Regions from separate parts of the Homo sapiens genome. Here region 2 is linked to region 1. The links come from fine-mapping of genetic effects on gene expression. Tissue or cell type: whole blood. Region 1 holds a variant in brackets; the other region holds the start of a gene. All regions are shown on one strand. Distances are between the middles of the regions.

Region 1 (8,702 bases):
CGCCACGCCAGCACCGGTGAGGGCGCCGCGGGACCCGTTCCGCCCCAGCCCACGCTTCTTCTGCTGCCAGGCTTGCTGCATTCTGGGCCCTCGGCTTCTGACCTTTTCACTACGTCCTGGGTGCCTGGGAGATGGAAATCCCATTAAGCACTTATTTAATTCCATTAAGTGGCTTGTTGCGCTATTAAATGTCCATTCATCCCATTACATTCTTCCACTCCCAGAGCCCTGGTGGGCCCCTGGAGCTGGCTGTCCCGGGACGGCCTGGAGCAGGGATGCCCTGGGCAGGAGACGTGCCCAGCCTCCGAACACCACCTGGCCCCCTGCCTGCCAGCGTCCTGGAGCAGACCGTTTCCTCTTCCTCTTCCTGGTCTCAGGGCTGTCTCCTGGCTGCTTCCTTAGAGTGGGACAGGGGTCTGACCTCTCTTGTTTCTTGTGACTCCCCTGGTCTCTTGAGCTGACCCCATGGACTCCTGACTGTGCAGGGCCTGGTCTCCACTCTCGATCTATGGGTGGCCTGCCTGGCCTGGGGCCCTGGGCTGCTGGCCTGACCACGCTGCCTCTCCACCTAGGGGCCATGCACCCACTGCGCAGCGGCTTGCTCAACTCCACCTCGGACTCCGACCTCGTGCGCTACCGCACCATTAGCAAGATTCCCCAAATCACCCTCAACTTTGTGGACCTCAAGGGCGACCCCTTCTTGGCTTCGCCCACCAGTGACCGTGAGATCATAGCACCTAAGATAAAGGAGCGAACCCACAATGTCACTGAGAAGGTCACCCAGGTAGGCGCCCAGCGGCCGGGCTCTCCTCTCACCTTGGAGGAGCTTGGAGAGGGGGTGGGAGTGGGCTGTGATCCAGAGCCGGGTGGAGGGGGCTAGCCAGTGAGGGCCTCTTGGAGGGAGGCAGACCTGAGGGTTGGGGTTGGCAATCTATTCCAGAGCTGCGATGGGGGGAGAGGGGACAGTCTGAGAAGTCCTGGAGAGGGGACTGGAGAGGTCTGGTAAAGGGCTGGGAATGGCAGAGCGGAGGTCGGGTGGATGGGGTGCGTGCCTTCGGGGCACAGGGTGAGGACAGGGCAGTTGAGGCTGGGGACATGACAGGGCCAGTAGCAAGGGGGGAAGGCGGCCTGAGGGACATGAAAGGTCTGGCTGCAGGGTGTGTGAAGGAAGTACTAGGGGCCAAGCCAACTGGGAGGCTTCAAATGAGAAGGGGTCACAGAGGTCAAGGACAGGAGGGTCCTAATTCTTCCAGGCCAAGGTGATGTGCCAGGCAGAGGGTGGGCCTCAGTCCTGTGGGGATGGCCAGGATGGCCTCGAGGGGCCCAACTATGTCCCTAAAGCATGGGAGAAGCAAGTTTTCTTCTCATAGGGAGGTGGTGGGTACAAAGATATGGAAGGGTCAGGTCCCTGAATCCTGGGCCAGAGAAGACCCCTCAGCCTTGGGGGCATTAGCCAGCCTGGTCTTCTGTCCCCTCCTGGGTTTGGGGTCCTCCTGGCAGCAAGAGGACCTGCGACCCCTCCATGGCTTCATCCACCCGACACCTTATCCTAGCCTTTGGGGGCTGGGGGTGGGTGGGTCAGGAGTGCAGATCTCTGCAGTGAGTGAGAAGCCTGGGATAATGTGGAGGACTCCTGTCCCAAGCTGTTCCCTCCTGCCCCTTCCACAGCAGCTGCCTGGGTTGGCTCATGTAAGGGAGCTGCCCTGCTACCTCGGCGGGCTCCTGGCCCTGCTCCCACCGCCTGGCTTTCTGGGTCCCTGCCAGGTCTCCAGCCCACTGGCCTTGACTCCAGAGCATTCCCCCTCACCCCAGGCCCTTATCTGGCCACCTACCCCTCTCTTCCTCCTCCCTTGCTTCTCTCTTGGTTCCCACCTGAGCCCCTGGCATCTGCCCTGCTCCTGTGCCCGCTGCATGTGCCCGTGAGTTGCGGTGGGTCTGTGCATGTGCGCCTGTATGTGTCGGCAGGCGTGTGTGTTCCTGCCAGTCACTAGCAGTCTCTCCATCTCTGGGTGTCTCTGTCTGACTCTGGCTGGCTCAGCACTGGACCGGCTGGGCGGGGGTGTCAGGGAGACCATTAATCTGCGGTGACAGGCCCGGCTGCTGGCGGAGGGGGAGGGGCTCAGGCTGCGGGAGCGCCGCTGCAGGAGCCTGGGCGGGCTGCGGGGGAGGGGGCCGCTGGCTGGGCACCGGCGGGGCGGGGGAGCCTAGTGTGGCGGGGTGGGGGTGGGGACCTGGTAGAAGGAGGGGCCGGCTGGAGGAGCTGAGGTTCCGAGTGCGGCCGCTGCTGGGCTGGCGGGCGGGCAGAGCACGGCACCCTGGCAGCAGGGCCCACGCCACGGGGCCATGGGCAGCTCGAGCCAGGCAGGCTGCTGCCCACGCTTACTGCCAGGGTGACCCCAGCCCTGGGGCCCAGCCACAACCACCCTGGCTTCATGCCAGGGGCTGCTCTGGTTGCCAGTCGGCCAGCCTCGGGGGTGCAGCCTGGGCTGGGACTGCTGCTGGGGTGCAGGTGAGGCAGTGGCCGGGCCCTCAGGCCCCAGGGCAGGCAGGCTGCAGGGAGCCAAGTCCTCCATGGCGGCCCCAGCCGGGAAGGCGAGCAGGACAGGGGCTCTGCGGCCCAGGGCCCAGAAAGGCCGGGTGAGGCGGGCCGTGCGCATCTCCAGCCTCGTGGCCCAGGAGGTAGGTGACACCCGGTCCTTCCTCTTCTTTCTGGGGCCGGCACACTGAGGCAGGTGGCTGGCCCAAGGGCTCTGACTCCAGGCTGGGGAGAGGGCTGCTGGGAAGTAGGAAGCTTTGGGAGCCGTGGGGCCTGGCCCTGCTCACCCGCGCCTGGCTCCTGTTCTCATTCCCTCCCAGGCTGGGCTTACAGAGTTTCCGTTGCTGGGACTTCCCCGCTCCTGTGCCTGCCATGGCCCACAGTCCTGGAGCTCAAAATGCAAAGTGGGGAGATGACAGGAATGAGATGGGTGCCCAGAGAGATGGTGGGGAGGCGGAGTGGGACAAAGGAGCCCATGGGCAGGACCAGGAGAAGCCGGCAGGCGACAGCTGGGCCTGGCATGGAGGCGCCGGGGCTCCTTTGCTCTGTGTGCTGGGGTTGGACCCTGTGGGCAAAGGAGGCTTGTGCTGTTTTGGGGGGTCGAGGAGGCTGGAATGTGCGGAAGCCACTGTGTGGGTGGTGAGGGCGCGCTGGGCTGAGGCACCTGGCTCATCTCTTCATGGGCAGCCGAGGTGTGGTGGCTGGGCCATGCACTACTCTGTGACCTCCTGGGAGCCATCCAGCCGCTCTTCTGTCAGCCTGGGGCAGGCTTGGGCCGACAGTGGAGGAGGAGTGGGAGGTGGCTCAGGGCTAAGTCTGGGAATCCCATCCCTGCCCCCACCACCCCACATCTGCACATTCTGCCTTGGCTCATACACTCTTTCCAGCTGGGGGACAGGTACAGGTAGGTCTTCCCACCCACAGCTGAGGAGTCAGGGTTTGGCTTAAGCAAGCCAGCTTCAGTATTCTATAGGACAACAGGCTGGGGGGACAGACCTGGCCCAAGGCCATAGGTGAGCTGGTGGCTGCAGAGCTGGGACTGGCCCCTGTCAGGTGTGCCCCATGCACGTGTGAGTTTGTACCCTGGGGCAGTGTTGCTCATGCTGTGTGCAGACTCAGGGGTAGGGTCACTGCTGTTAGGGGTGGTCCTGACACCTCCGCCCAGAGGCTTGACCTCTCAGGCACAGAGAAGAGCCCTGTCCAGGGGCAGCTACCTTCTTCTGCCCCCTTATCAGCAGGGGCCTGGCCAGTGTTTTCTTTTTTTTTTTTCAGTCCCCACTTGATCACTGAAGGGCCACCCACCCATGGGCATTTGCTCTCTGCCTTAAGGAGCTGGGCACTTAGACAGCAGACAGAGCAGAAATGGAGCCTGTGAGCCTGTCCATGTGTTCCCTCCCTGCCCTAGGCCTCAGCTGCTCCCGCAGCCCATCTGGTACCGCTGGAGGCCCTGTGTCCACCCCAGGGTGGTCAAATCTTTGACTATGACCCGTCTTGACTTCTAGTTATTTCCTCTAAGGAGATGTTCTCCCAGCAGCGCCATCTGTGAAGGTGTCTTGGGCAAGCCCAGCTTGAGTATGAAGGGGAGTCTTTGGGACTCATCAACTATGGCCTCCCCAACCCAAAAGCCTGAGGGTGTGGGGGCCTGGGAGTCAGTGCTTCTGGGAGCAGGGCCAGCACCTCTGGAATTCATGGGGGCTGGGCAAGGCCTTGGGTTCAGCTGGCTGCCCAGGGATGGCAGGGAGAGCTTGGGGAGGGGGCTTTTGGGTTGAGCTGCATGCCTGAGAGAGGATTCTAGGGAGACCCAGAAGCTTCTGGGACAGTGTGGAGAAGCTGGCCGGAGCTCTTCTTAGTTTGCCTTGG[G/T]AGCAAGAGGGACGTGCCTGCTGTCACCGGGTCCGGATGGCCAGCCTGCCTCTGTCTGATGACTGTGGAGGAGGCAGAGTGTGAGTGTGAGCTGGTACAGGGGCTGTGTGTGTCACTGCTGAGCAGTCCCTGTGTGCACGTCCCTCTGTATAAGTTGGGTGCCATCTCCTCCCAGCTGGGCTATGTCTTCTTTGTCCCTTTGTAAGAGGGTGGGAGGATGAGGACTGTGGGCTGTCCCGGACCTGTGTGGAGAGGGGGCTGAGGGAGCGAGGTGTGCGAGTGGAGGGTGGGAGTGTCTTGGTCTTTCTCCATCCTGGTTGCCTGGTGTCCTCGGGCCTGTGGCATGAAGAGGGGCTGGTAAGAACTGCAGTGACTACCAGTCAGTGGATTGGGGCTATGGCTCCTGGGGCCACTGCCCAGGTTGGGAGCTGTTGTCCTTGGAACCCTTTCCGGTCTGAGACTATGGCGTGTGTGGTTGGGTGTGTGGGCCAGCGTCTCAGGGCAGTCACAGTGGCAGGTCTGCATCTGCATTGCCGGCGGGGAGCAGCACTGGGTGTTCCTGCCGAGTGGCCTGAATCCACGTCTGCCGGGAAATGTTGGAACTGTTTGGAGCCAGTCCTGTGCTGTGTGGCATTTTGGGAACCATGATGCCCAAACCTGGGGGTGGCCATTTGCTGTGGTCGCTTGGCTGAGGGGTGGGCATTCTGATGGAAGCTTTTTTTGGCCTCCTCCTCATTCTGCTTGGCCCCGGCAGAGATGTCATCGCTCCTGCCCCCGAGGTCCCATGGCCTGCCTCACCCACACCTCCGCCTTCCCCGGGTGCAGGTCCTGTCCCTGGGCGCCGACGTGCTGCCTGAGTACAAGCTGCAGGCACCGCGCATCCACCGCTGGACCATCCTGCATTACAGCCCCTTCAAGGCCGTGTGGGACTGGCTCATCCTGCTGCTGGTCATCTACACGGCTGTCTTCACACCCTACTCGGCTGCCTTCCTGCTGAAGGAGACGGAAGAAGGCCCGCCTGCTACCGAGTGTGGCTACGCCTGCCAGCCGCTGGCTGTGGTGGACCTCATCGTGGACATCATGTTCATTGTGGACATCCTCATCAACTTCCGCACCACCTACGTCAATGCCAACGAGGAGGTGGTCAGCCACCCCGGCCGCATCGCCGTCCACTACTTCAAGGGCTGGTTCCTCATCGACATGGTGGCCGCCATCCCCTTCGACCTGCTCATCTTCGGCTCTGGCTCTGAGGAGGTGGGGTCAGCAAGGAGGCAGGTGGTGTAGGGAGAGGAGAGGCCAGGAATGTGGTGGGAGGTAGTGGGGTGGAGGGGGTGGCGAGGAGGACAGAGAAAAAGAGAGAGAGAGAGAAAGAGAGAAAGACAGTGGGAGAGAGACATGGTGGCAAGGCAGCTGCAGAGGCAAGGTGGGTACCCCAGCAAACCTATGCTCCTTCTCTCCACACAAGCTCCTCGCAGGTTGCAGAGGGCCACACAGGACACCTTTTTTTCTAATTCGTCCATCCCAAGGGGCCATTATTTTGTAGCGTCACCAAAGTGCCCTAGAAGCTGGTGGGAGTGGGCAGGCACCCTAGGGTGATCACTGCACCTGTCAGTGCCCCTGTTTCCTCATCCACACTATGGGGGCTGCCTCTGTCCCAAAGCTAGCACTAAGATTAATGAGACACCTGTGCTGGGCCCAGTGTGGGCTTCACCTCTTAGGAGGAGGGTCTAGGAAGTCTTTGGGGATCTGACCTCTGATGCTCGCTCTGAGGGCCGCAGCACCTCCCCTCCTCCCTTGCCCCCCTTGCCCCATCAACGGAATGTGCCCCTTCCCTGTCCCCCAGCTGATCGGGCTGCTGAAGACTGCGCGGCTGCTGCGGCTGGTGCGCGTGGCGCGGAAGCTGGATCGCTACTCAGAGTACGGCGCGGCCGTGCTGTTCTTGCTCATGTGCACCTTTGCGCTCATCGCGCACTGGCTAGCCTGCATCTGGTACGCCATCGGCAACATGGAGCAGCCACACATGGACTCACGCATCGGCTGGCTGCACAACCTGGGCGACCAGATAGGCAAACCCTACAACAGCAGCGGCCTGGGCGGCCCCTCCATCAAGGACAAGTATGTGACGGCGCTCTACTTCACCTTCAGCAGCCTCACCAGTGTGGGCTTCGGCAACGTCTCTCCCAACACCAACTCAGAGAAGATCTTCTCCATCTGCGTCATGCTCATTGGCTGTGAGTGTGCCCAGGGGCGGGCGGCGGGGAGAGCCCACGGTGGAGGAACCCAAGTTGGAGGAAACTGAGGCTGCTAGCCGGGCCAGAGTGAGGCCCTGGAACTTAGAGACTCCAGGGGCCACCATCGTGACATGGTTTGGGGGCTGGGTCACCAGGGCGGGGACTACTGAAGGGTGGGGTGTGCTGGAGCGCAGATGTACAAGGGCGTCTCGTGGGCATGTCGACGCTGAGACTGAGACACTGACCTGGTGCGGGGCCTGAGCAGGGTCCCTGTGGGTGGGTGGGGTCCCTGCAGAGGCTGACGGCCCCACGTGCCCACGCCCCCAGCCCTCATGTATGCTAGCATCTTCGGCAACGTGTCGGCCATCATCCAGCGGCTGTACTCGGGCACAGCCCGCTACCACACACAGATGCTGCGGGTGCGGGAGTTCATCCGCTTCCACCAGATCCCCAATCCCCTGCGCCAGCGCCTCGAGGAGTACTTCCAGCACGCCTGGTCCTACACCAACGGCATCGACATGAACGCGGTGAGGCCACCAGAGCGTGGCCAGTGGGTGGCAGGCTGGGAAGAGTGGGGTGGCAGAGGGGAACCTCTTGGCACAGCAAACAAGTCTCAGGCGGTCACAGTCAGTAGTAAGGACCCTGGAGGCACGTTGCCCCTTTTTGCCCATGAGGAAATGGAAGCCCTTGGAACCCCTTCCCTGGAGAGCTCCCCTTTTGGGGTGGGAGGTATATGTCACATAGGCGATGGGGTTAAATCCTTGTGACAGCCCAGGGCGGGAATGGTCTCTATGCCTTACAAATAAGAACATGGAGGTCTAGAGCCCAAGGGTGCTCGGCCAGGCATGGTGAAGCTGGAGTGGGGTCCCAGGTCCTTCCCAAGACACTGGGCCCCCTGATGCTTCCGAGATCTCCCAGGCCTGGAGGTTGAGATTTCTCTGACATGGAGGGGTGGGATGGTGGAGTAGAGTGTGGGTTGGGGGGTCCCAAGGGAGGGTGTGCTGAGCTGCCCCCACCCTGCCCCCAGGTGCTGAAGGGCTTCCCTGAGTGCCTGCAGGCTGACATCTGCCTGCACCTGAACCGCTCACTGCTGCAGCACTGCAAACCCTTCCGAGGGGCCACCAAGGGCTGCCTTCGGGCCCTGGCCATGAAGTTCAAGACCACACATGCACCGCCAGGGGACACACTGGTGCATGCTGGGGACCTGCTCACCGCCCTGTACTTCATCTCCCGGGGCTCCATCGAGATCCTGCGGGGCGACGTCGTCGTGGCCATCCTGGGTATGGGGTGGGGGGCGGGCACTGGACTGGAAATGCCCTCTGCAGCCTCAAGAGGTGCGAGCCTTCTGAATATGCAGTCACTGGGGCTGTGGACCTGGGACTGCCTGCAGGGTCACTGGGCTCCTTTAATTCACCTAAACTCAGGCCCTCCAAGCGGGGCCATGGAGAGGAGCCCCACGTGGGGTGAGGCTGCTGAACTCTGGGGTTCCCACATTCTCCTTCCCTTCAGGATCCGCCACAAACAGACACTTTTTGCTTCCTTAAAGTAGGATCAAATCTAGATCCTCTAGCCTGGGCAGTAGAGGAAGAAATGCTAGCCTGGAAGCTCGGCATTTGGTTTCACTAAGGGCCATGTGGTTCCCTGCAGCCTCATGCCTGGCCCCTTGACACATCCAAAGCAAAGGGAGTCCTGCCCCCTCCCCCCACTTCCTTTCTACCCTGCCTGTGCACAGTGGGTGGGTTGGTGTGTCTGGACACTGAGGACTTCCTCCCCCTTTGCCTGTCCTTCCCTCGGCCCTGTGTGCCTCAGGGCAGATATAGCAAGCTCTTTCGACCATAGTTGATGGTAGGACATTTTAGACTTTGTTTCTCAGCTCTGTACAAACACAAATACACACCCCCACAAAACTAAAATCAAAGTTTCACTACATAACACTGGGCCTTACTGCATGTGGTTCATTCTAGCATTTCTGTTCTGTGCTGTGCTAAGCTATACTACTGTATGTTCTTTCAGTAAAAAAAAAAAAAAAAAAAAAAAAATGCTGGTTTTGATTCACTACTGTGTTCTGATCTTTG
Region 2 (9,328 bases), 23 kb before region 1:
CATCCTTTCTTCCTTCTTTCTTTCCTTCCTACTTCCCTTCTTTCTATCAATAAGCCCTGATCATCCACTTCTGGAGGGGAAACATGCTGTTTCTTTGATTCTTTTCTTCTCCAACTCCAGTTCACATCTGAAAAAAATCTCTATTCTGGGGACCCAGTTGCACAGAAAAACAAAAAAAACCCACCGTGTTCAAGCATCAAGGGACCTGCTCACTCTGTTCTTCCTTCCCCAGGGTTTCCCAGGAACCATTGCTCTGTAACCTGTCTCTCCTGTGCCCAGCCGACTGGAACTGCTTCCCAATCCCCTGTGGGTAACCCCAGGCTCTCCTGGGCCTGACTTTGGTGGTGTCTTGCCTGGCCCGCTCCTTGGGGGACCTCTGGCAGAGTGGGCTTCCATTTCTCTTTCTCCTTCCAGGATGTCCTGGCTCCATGCCTTCGGACTGAGCAGGAGCAGAGAGCAGGGTGGGTAGGATGCTTTCTGCAGACTTTTCTCCCTAAATTGTTTCTTTTTGGGAGCTGGGAGGAGCCTGGATATCTCACTGTAGCCTCTCTGTTCCCTCAGTCACAGGCAGGGTGCGGGAGAGCTCTTCCCAGGAATGGTCTCTGAAATGGCTCTTGGAGCTGAGATGGGGGTGGGGCAGATTCTAGAGGCTTAACAGCCCAGCTCTTGGTATTAGGGTTGGGCACTTTTCTCTTTGTCCCAGATCTGGGGGTAGCAGAGGTGGGAAGTTGAAGGCAGTGGGGGCTTCTCCATCAGCTCATCTGAGGCCCAGAAATGTTGCTTTGGGGAGAGCTTGCCCCCTCTCACCGTTTCTCTTCCTCAGCTCAATTCTTGAGTGTGGGGGCGGCTAAGTGGGTCTGCCTTCAGGCTCTACCCTGAGCCTCCAAGGAAGTCAGAAATCTACATTCAGCTTTGACTTCTGAGTATGTGGAGTGGGCTGGGGGGAGAGAGGGAGAGATCTGTCTCTCCTCAGCTTGAGGGAACAGCTCTCTTCTTGCCTCTGTGCACAGAAGGAGGGCTACCCCGTGCCTGGGCTCCTCTCTGTTTGGGAGGATGAAGGGCTCCTCTGACTCCTGTCTTCCCTTTGGGATAAGAGCAGAGGCCTGTCCCAGCAACACGGGTACAGGAGTGGAGGACAGCTGGCCAGCTCAGATGAGTGGCTCCTTCCCTTCAGGGCCTGGCTCTCCCTCTCCCTTGGTCTGGAGAGAGGGGGAGGCTACAGATGTCCCTTTCCCTTCTTGCCCTCCCATGCCCATTCTCAGCTGCTGGCCTTTGCTCACTTTCTCTCCATCCCCTGGCCTGGACAGGAGGACACTTCACTCACACATGAATCATCCTGGATTCATGGTAGGCAACCCAGCAGCCAGGGGTGGCCTTGGGGCGTGGCGGGGGCTGGGCCAGTCGTGGACTAGGTTCTACCCGGAACCCAGATGTGTTGATGCACCTGATGCCAAATGCTACACCAAGGAGGAGCTTGTGCTGTGGAAGGCCCTGGGCCCCCGGGGGGGTGAGTGAGGAAACTGCTGGCAGTGGAGAGGGCCTGAGGAATAACTGCACAGGCAAGAGCCTCTGGACTTTTTTAGCATCAGCTGTGGAGCCACCTCCTTCTCTCCCACTGGCTGCCTCCCTGAGTCACTGCCCACCCACCAGCAAATAAAAAAGAGTGTCATCTGCTGGCCAGTGGCCCCATTTGGCCCCAGTGTTTGCATCTTTGTGCTCCTGGGTGGAAGGTGAGAGTCCGGGTAGGGTGGTCTCACGACGACAGTTTTCTGCGCCTTCCTCCTTCGGGACTCCGATTCCTTCCCTGCCCTTTGTTCTTCCCCTCCCCCCATGATGGTTCTCGCTGGTGACAAGACCCAGCCCCTGCTCCAAGGACAGAGGCAGCTGCAAGCCCTCAGGAGCCCCCACATGGCCCCATCCATCTAGACAGGTCTCTGATCCGGCTGCAGGGAGGGGACCCTCGGCTGTTCAGCTGCGACTCCTCCCTCCCCGCCCGCCCACTCAGCTGTCAACACTCGCCTCCCCGCCCTGGCCTTCCCGGGGCCCTGCCTGACTGCTAAGTCCGAGGACACCGCGCCCGGAGACCCTCACTCAGACGCAAGCAGGCGATGAGCAGGCGGCGGGGCAGACACCCCGCCTGCCCTTGAGCATCCCTAGGCCTCCTTGCCTAAATAAGGGAGCCGCAGCTGGAGCGAGCCAGCTGGCCGGGGGGAGGGGCCTGCGGCTAGGCCAGGGCTTTCCGAGGGGCTGGGCCGTGGCCGCCGCCGCAGGGCCCCGAGCCCGCCGATTGGGCGTGCAAGGCTGGCCCCGGGCTGCCGGGGGAGGGCGGGCCGCTCGCACCCGGGGATCCCCTGGTTGGAACCTCGCGCTCAGGGACCTCTCTTTGATCCTGCAGCTAGGAGGCCGCAACTGCTGTCAGAATGTCCCTCTCTGTGCAGCTCCTATGCAGAGCCCCACAGAGGGCTCTCTCTCTCTCCGTGTGTGTGTGTGTATGTGTGTGTGTGTGTGTGTGTGTGTGTGTGTGTGTATGTGTGTGTGTGTGTGTGTGTGTGTGTGTGTGTGTGTGTTGGGGCAGGGGGCGTGCCCCTTCTAAGTTTAACCCTCCCTTATTTCAGAGCTCTGCTGCTCTGGGGCCTTCAGATTGTCTTGCTTTTCCTATTTCCAGGGTCTCCCTTGACTCCGGGCTCGTCTTCGAGGGTCCAGGCGTTGCCCCGGTCACCCACAGTAGGCACTGAGCGCGTGCTGTGTATACCAAGCCAGTGCTCGGCGTGGTGGGGAACCAGGGCATAAGGACCCGCCGTTTCCCTTCAAATCAGGTTTCTTAGTCGCTAATCTGGGGTGGGGGTGGAATCCCTTCCCCCATCCCGGCCGCCTACAAGCCGGCCATGGCACCTGTCCTCACGGTTTCCCCTGCCTAAGGGTCCCTTCCCCCTCTTCTGGGCGCGCGAGTCCCAGGGGCTCCTTGGCAGAGCGAGGGGCTGGCGTTGGGGGAGCACTCGGCGCGGCTCAGCCAATGGGAAGGTCGGGCGCGCGCGGTGGGGCGGGATGGGGGGGGGAGAGGGCGGTGCTGCGGGCGCGCGGCAGGCGGGAGGGGGCCGGGAGGCGGGGGCCGGAGCCGGAGGGGCGCGCGCCGCATTAACCCTTCCGCGGCCGGGCCGAGCCGCAGGCGCTGCCCGAGCCGCGGGCGCTGGAGCGGCTGTCGGCGCGGTGGCAGGCGGGAGCCAGGAGTCCGGGGCTCGGGCGGGCGGAGCGCAGCGCGGGGACGCGGCGGAGCGGGCCCCGCGGCTCGGCGGGGGCCGGCAGACAGGTGTGCCGGCGGCGGGCGGCTCGCGCTCAGGCGGCTCCAGGCCGGGCCCGGGGTCCGGAGCGGGGAGCCGGGAGCCGAGCGAGGACCCGGCGCCCGCAGTCCAGTCTTGGCCGCGCCCGTGCTCGGCTTGGCCGCGGGGTGCGGGGACCACGGCCCGGCCGGGCCACCCGAAGCCTAGTGCTGGGCCGGGCCGGGCCGGGGTGGGTGGGGGCCCGCCCGGCCCGCCCATGGGCTCAGGATGCCGGTGCGGAGGGGCCACGTCGCGCCGCAGAACACCTTCCTGGACACCATCATCCGCAAGTTTGAGGGCCAGAGTGAGTGGGGGAGGGGGCTGAGCGGGGAGGGGGCTCTGGGGGCGGGCCGAGCTCTTCCGAGTGTGGATGGGGGGGCGTGCCCGGGCCGTGTGCGTCGGCAAGTGCGAGTCAATGGGGCCTGGTGGGCCCCAGGCTTTGGCGAGGGGACGGCGGGGGCAAGGCTTGGTGCACCGGGGCCGTGGGCACCGGGCCAAAGGGTTTGGGGTTGGGGCTTGGGGCGGGAAACTCAGCTCAGGCTTTTGGGATCGGAGTGTGTGTGACACGCTGAGTGTGCAGGGAAGGGATGTGGGATGGAGTGTGCAGGTGTCCCCAACTCTGGGTGCGTGGACGTGGATGGGGCTGTGTGCAAGGGCATAAGAGTGTGTACGACCCAAACCCTGGGATCCCGAGAGTCCAGCGCGCACACTGGTCTTGCCAGATCTTGACTGTGTTGTGCCGGAGGGACTGAAAAGCCGTGGATGCAGGGTCAGCTCATAATCTCTTCTTGTGTGTGCCGTGTGTATATAACCCTGAGCCCATGTGTCACCCGTGAGTTAGACCCTGTATGGGCGGTGGGGAGGTGTCTTTGACAAGGCTGCGAGCTTGTGGGCTCTGTGGAGACAGGGTGTCCTGGGGCTAGAGCTGGGCTTTGAGGGTAAGCAGCTCCCTGTGGTACCCCCAAGTTGTGGGTTTTCTTGCCCTGGAGACTGTCACCTAATTCCCTTATGGGGACCGGGAGTACAGCACCCCTAATGCCTGCCTGGTAGGGAGGCTTCTAGAAGGGTCCCAGATTAGGCAAATGTCCTGGGGGTGGGCAGCATTCATGTGCCTGTCCCTAAGGCTGCATGAGCCACAGTGGGTGTGACTGCCAAGGGCCCTGGGAGTTGGGAGAGGATGACATTCCTTGTCCATGACCCTGTGAGCACAGGACAACGCGTGCTTGTAACGGTGGTTGGGGGAAGGAGGGGTCAGTCCGATGGTCAGTATTGTGTGAAGCGGAGGAACAAGATGATCCTGAGGGGGTGGAGACAATGACACTGGTTGAGGGCCTCCCTGAGAGGTGGGGGTGGGCCCAGGGGGAGGCTGTGGGCGGGCCTACGAGGAGGCTGGGATGGATGTGGGGGGGGGTGCTGGATTCTAGCCCTACCTTTGCCACTGACTGCCATGTGACCTTGAGTGACTCTTCCCTCTTTGGGTCTCAGGTTCCAGGTCTGTGGAGGAGGGGCAGGCTTTCTGTCCCATCCCTGTATTCCAGGATCTCAGTGAAGGGTGTGTGGTGGGGTGGGGCATGCCTTCGAAGAAACTTGCTCTTCTTTCCCCAGCCTGGGAGAGAGGACAAGGGGTGGTTTTTCTTCTATGAAGCTGGGGTGTGTGGCTGGGCCTCTGGACTGCCTTGGACTGTGGCAGAGCTGGAGGCCGAGTTAGGGGGTCTTTTCAGGTGACAGGAAACCCTGACTCCTGGAATTGATGGCTGCCTGGGAGGTCTGGGGGGCCTTGGGAACTGGCCAAAAGATGAACCAGTTCCAAAAGGCAACTTTCTGGGGGCCAGGGGAAGGGAGAATCGAGAAAGGTGGGAGGAGGCCAAGTCCTGATGGCCTGGGCCTATCTCAGGGTGCCCTGCTGCAGCCCAGCTTTGCACGTAGGATTGCCTAGGGCTGCAACCTGAGGGCTATGCTTGCTGGGGAGGGGAGGGGAAGGGAGGGGGAGAATTCCAACTGCTACTGAAAGCCCCAGCATTACAGGCCAAAGTGGCCGGAAACTTCTGTTTATAAAAAGCTCTTATCCCAGGAGCATCTTGCCTGGCACAAGTGAGGCTGCTGCCTGCCTGCTGCTCACTCGCCAGCCTGGCTCTCCGGGCAGGCCTGGAGTCAGGGAGCCAAGTCTGGCAGAAATGGAACCATGGGGGTGCTCATCCAGGATGAGGCCAAACTGAGGAAGGCCTCACATCCCTGGGCAGGTCCCCTTTCTTGGGTCTGTTTTCCTACAAGTGGGGCCAAAGTCTCAGGCCCCGCCCAGGCTCCAGGTGTGTCCAGGGTTTGGAGCTGCAGGTCCCTCTCTTTGCTTCCTATGACCTTGGGCTTCTGCCTGTGACCCTCAGCTTATTCTTCTGCCTCTGCCAGACCAAGGTTCAAAAGCTGGCTCTATCATTTACAAGCTGCAAGACTTGGGCATGGTGCCGAACTTCTCTGGAGCCTTGGTTTCTTCATCTATAAAAGGAGGATAATAACACCTACCTTATGGGGTTGTCAGAGGACCTAATGAGATGCAGCGTCCTTAGGTGTTCAACGTGTAACTTCCCTCATCCTCTCTGGCACACCCACCCCTCAGCTCCTGACTGCCCTTGGGGCGGGGGTGGTGTGCAGAAGTTCTAGGGGGTACTGACCTGGTAGGATCCTCAGATAATCGGGGAGTGATTTCCTAGGGAGCCTCAGGATAAGGAGTGGCTCAGGGAGCGCCCCCCAGTCTGGAGAGCAGGGAAATTAAAAGCAGAATCCAGAGAGCCGATGCAAAGGGAATCCTGGCCGCCATCTCTGGCCTTTCCCAGGCTCCCTTTCTAGGCCCAGTGTTTATCCCTCCGCCGCGGCTGCTGACACGCGTTGCTGACACCCGCCAGGCTGGCCTCAGCCTCGGGCATGGAGGAGGCGGCGGGCTGCTGGCGGCCTGCCCGGGGGAAGCCACGCAGCCCGCCCGCGGGCCAGGCGGAGGAGGGGGCGCGCCGCGCGGCCCGGCCGGCCAGGCACCTGTATCGGGGCACACGCACAGCTGCGTTCGCCCCCTGCTGGGACCCCAGTCCCAGCCATGCTTCCTGTGGCGGGGAGTCCCCGGGCGGCTGTGTGAGTGGAGAATGTGGGGAAGGGCTGGGAGTCCCGGAGGCTGGGGTCCCCGCTCACGCGCACTCTCCTCCCCGCCCCCCTAGGCCGTAAGTTCATCATCGCCAACGCTCGGGTGGAGAACTGCGCCGTCATCTACTGCAACGACGGCTTCTGCGAGCTGTGCGGCTACTCGCGGGCCGAGGTGATGCAGCGACCCTGCACCTGCGACTTCCTGCACGGGCCGCGCACGCAGCGCCGCGCTGCCGCGCAGATCGCGCAGGCACTGCTGGGCGCCGAGGAGCGCAAAGTGGAAATCGCCTTCTACCGGAAAGATGGTAGGAGCGGGCCGGGGCGGGGCCACGACCAGGGGCGGGGTCAAGAGGGGCGGGACCACGGCGAGGGGCAGGGTGCGTGGGGGTGTGGGGGTGTGGGGGCGGCTGGAGAACGCCCCGAGCCCGGGCAGGGTTCTGTGGGGGTGTGACGCGGGCGGGGGCCCTGCGGTGTGCCTGTGGGAGGCGCGGTTCCGGGGCCTGCGCCTCACTCTGCTGAGATGGTTTTCAGGAGGGCAAAGGAGTTGCTAGGCTGTGGGTCTGGCTCCTCTGGTCCTTTTTTTCCCTGGGCAGGTGTGGGCACGTAGAGCAAGTTGGACTAGAGTTAGACCGAGCTGGGATGGCAGGTACGTGCGTGGATGGAGGTTAAAGGTCAGATTGGCAGTTGTGCGCTGACATCCGGGCACAGGCCCCTATCTACCTTAGGGCAGTTGCTGCCAGGTGACAGGTCTGGGAGATGTCATGGAGGGACAGGAGGGCTGCAGGACTCTGGCTGTCTCTGCTGCCCCCCTCCTGCCCTGCGCTTCAGCAGCACCTGGGGGAGGTGCGTGCCTCTCCCCGCAACCTCAGTTCCCTTTGTCTCAGCTGTCGAGCGCCCCGCCCTGCCACCCTCTCCTGCGCCAGGTGTCTTTACTCAGCCACCGCCTCCCAGCACAGCTGCTCTGGGCTTCCGGAGAGCGGATAAACAGAGCCCGGGGTGGGGCTGCTCCCACACCGTGAATGCCCTGTTGGGGTGGGCTCTGGTCAGGGCGGGCAGAGCAGGAGGACTGGGGTCCTGTGGGCAGAATCCGGCTGCAGAGGCGGCTCTGGAACGCGTGCAAACCTTGCTGCTTCCTAGCGTGTGTCCCATAAGCATTGACTCAACCCTTGTGAGCCTGGCAGGCACTAGGCTCTTGGAGATGGGCAGGACAGATGAGGCTCCTGCCCTCAGGGAGCTTGTCTGCTGTAGACAGTGAGCACGCTCTGCTTTCTGTTTGGGACCAGGCCAGCCAGCCCCATGTGCCAGCCCTGTGTGCTCAGGGTTGGCTGGGGTGGCCCTGCAAAGCTTTGCATCCTCCAGGCTGTGCTTTTGCAGGCGTGCACAGTCTGTGGCATCACTGGACGGCACTAGAGGGGGCATGGTCCCTGCACCCTGTGGAAGAAGGTTCGCTCACAGCAAATCAGGGTTCTAACTGGCAGGAGGCAGGGGCTGTGAGACTAGACTCAAACCCTGAAGGCAGTGGATGGTTTCTAGGGGCTAGACACTGGGCCAAATGCTTTACTTCTCTTATCTCAGGCACTCTTCACAACCCAGGGAGGTAGACACTACTGTTGTCTTCATTTTGGGGGATGAAGAAACTGAAGTTCACACAGTCACACAGCTAGAAAATAGCAGTTGGGAACGGAGCCCACATCTGTCTGACCGGAGCCCTGTGCGCTCTGTTCTGTCTGTCATATATTGAAAATGACACCAGGTAGTTGCAGGTCTATCTGTATGCTGTACATTATCTCATGTGAAATTTTATTGTAAAAGTTTGCCAACCACAGGTGTACTGAAAAGAATATGAACCCATAAGTCCTGGGTTTGTGTCTAAGACAATGCTGGAAATTATACACTACTGGACAAGTTGGTTGACTTCCCTGGGCCTGTTTCTACTTCTGGGATAACGTGCCTTGCTTTGGACCTTCACAAGGGTGCTGAGCTTTCATAGAGAGTGCCTGCAACGGGCCGTGCTCTGTAAACACGGTGCCAGTCCCACTACGATGTAGCTGTGCTGGGGATTTGGCCTCTTGGCAGCAGCGGCTGAGGGCTCTTTCCTTTGGCTGTGGTATGTGTGGAGTGCTCTTAGGTGGAGCTGGCCCTCCCTCCCAGTCTAGGCTGGCCCCTTCTGGAGAGGATGGCTATGGGCCCCCTTCTGCAGAGGAGTTATTGTGGGATCACCTAATCCAACCCATTCGACTTGCAGGTGGAAGGACGGAGAAGCAGAGGTCTGATGACCAGTGAATCAGTGGAAGGAGTGGGATTAGAACCCAGATCCCCAGCCCAAGTTCAAACTTGTCCCCTCTCCAGGTTACAACTCCAAAAAATGGGGCTGTGACCCAGAAAACTCTGTGCCAGCAATCTCTGTCTGTCCCCTTCTTCACTCTCACCTAGTTTCCACGGGGCTCAGGTGTCTCCTGTTGGCCAACAGGCTGGCCTGGCACTCAGCCACCTAGGACCCCATGTATCCTGGCATTCTAGGCCTGGGGTGATGCAGACAGATTTCCTCAGCCTCCGCTTCTTCTGCCTTGAAACACTCAGTCCCTCCTGTGATCCCCGGGACCTGGCTTGGGCTGCGTGTGTGCGTGCCTGTGTGTGTACTCACACATGGGCCTGGTAGGGAGGCGGAGGTGAGGAATGCCTGCGCCACCCCTTGTTTCTGTCCAGGCCTTTCTCAGGGTCTCTGCCTGGGCCAGCCTCGGGTAGGGGGAGCTGGGCAGGAGGTGGAGCCTTCTGCTGGCAGGCGCCGCCGTGGACAGCTGTGCTGTGTTGGTGCCTCTAGCCTTGCTCTGCGCAGTGTCAGGGCCTGGAGCCAGACAGCCCCATTATTTAGTTGCTGGGACTGC

Evidence for each region. PIP is the estimated chance that this variant, and not a neighbour inherited with it, causes the effect.
Region 2: it holds the start of KCNH2, and the variant in region 1 is fine-mapped to the expression of KCNH2 in whole blood (INTERVAL, PIP 0.95).

The regions. Positions count from the first base shown.
Region 1 is chr7:150,949,373-150,958,074 of GRCh38, reverse strand. It overlaps KCNH2 (potassium voltage-gated channel subfamily H member 2), which reads left to right. Exons shown (of 15, transcript NM_000238.4): 4 at 1-16; 5 at 573-784; 6 at 5,222-5,650; 7 at 6,240-6,627; 8 at 6,955-7,154; 9 at 7,655-7,907. Among named protein-coding and RNA genes, the nearest start is that of KCNH2, 25 kb to the left of the region's middle. RefSeq lists enhancers at 1-332, 3,137-3,735, 8,450-8,702. The variant G/T (reference allele first, on the strand shown) is at 4,397.
Region 2 is chr7:150,972,131-150,981,458 of GRCh38, reverse strand. It overlaps KCNH2 (potassium voltage-gated channel subfamily H member 2), which reads left to right and starts at 3,138. Exons shown (of 15, transcript NM_000238.4): 1 at 3,138-3,621; 2 at 6,518-6,748. The coding sequence starts at 3,546. It overlaps LOC124901776 (a long non-coding RNA gene), which reads right to left and starts at 6,141. Exons shown (of 3, transcript XR_007060592.1): 1 at 5,984-6,141; 2 at 4,748-4,923; 3 at 4,104-4,614. RefSeq lists silencers at 2,121-2,470, 6,244-6,393, 6,784-6,833, 6,934-7,003 and enhancers at 4,840-5,766, 8,905-9,328.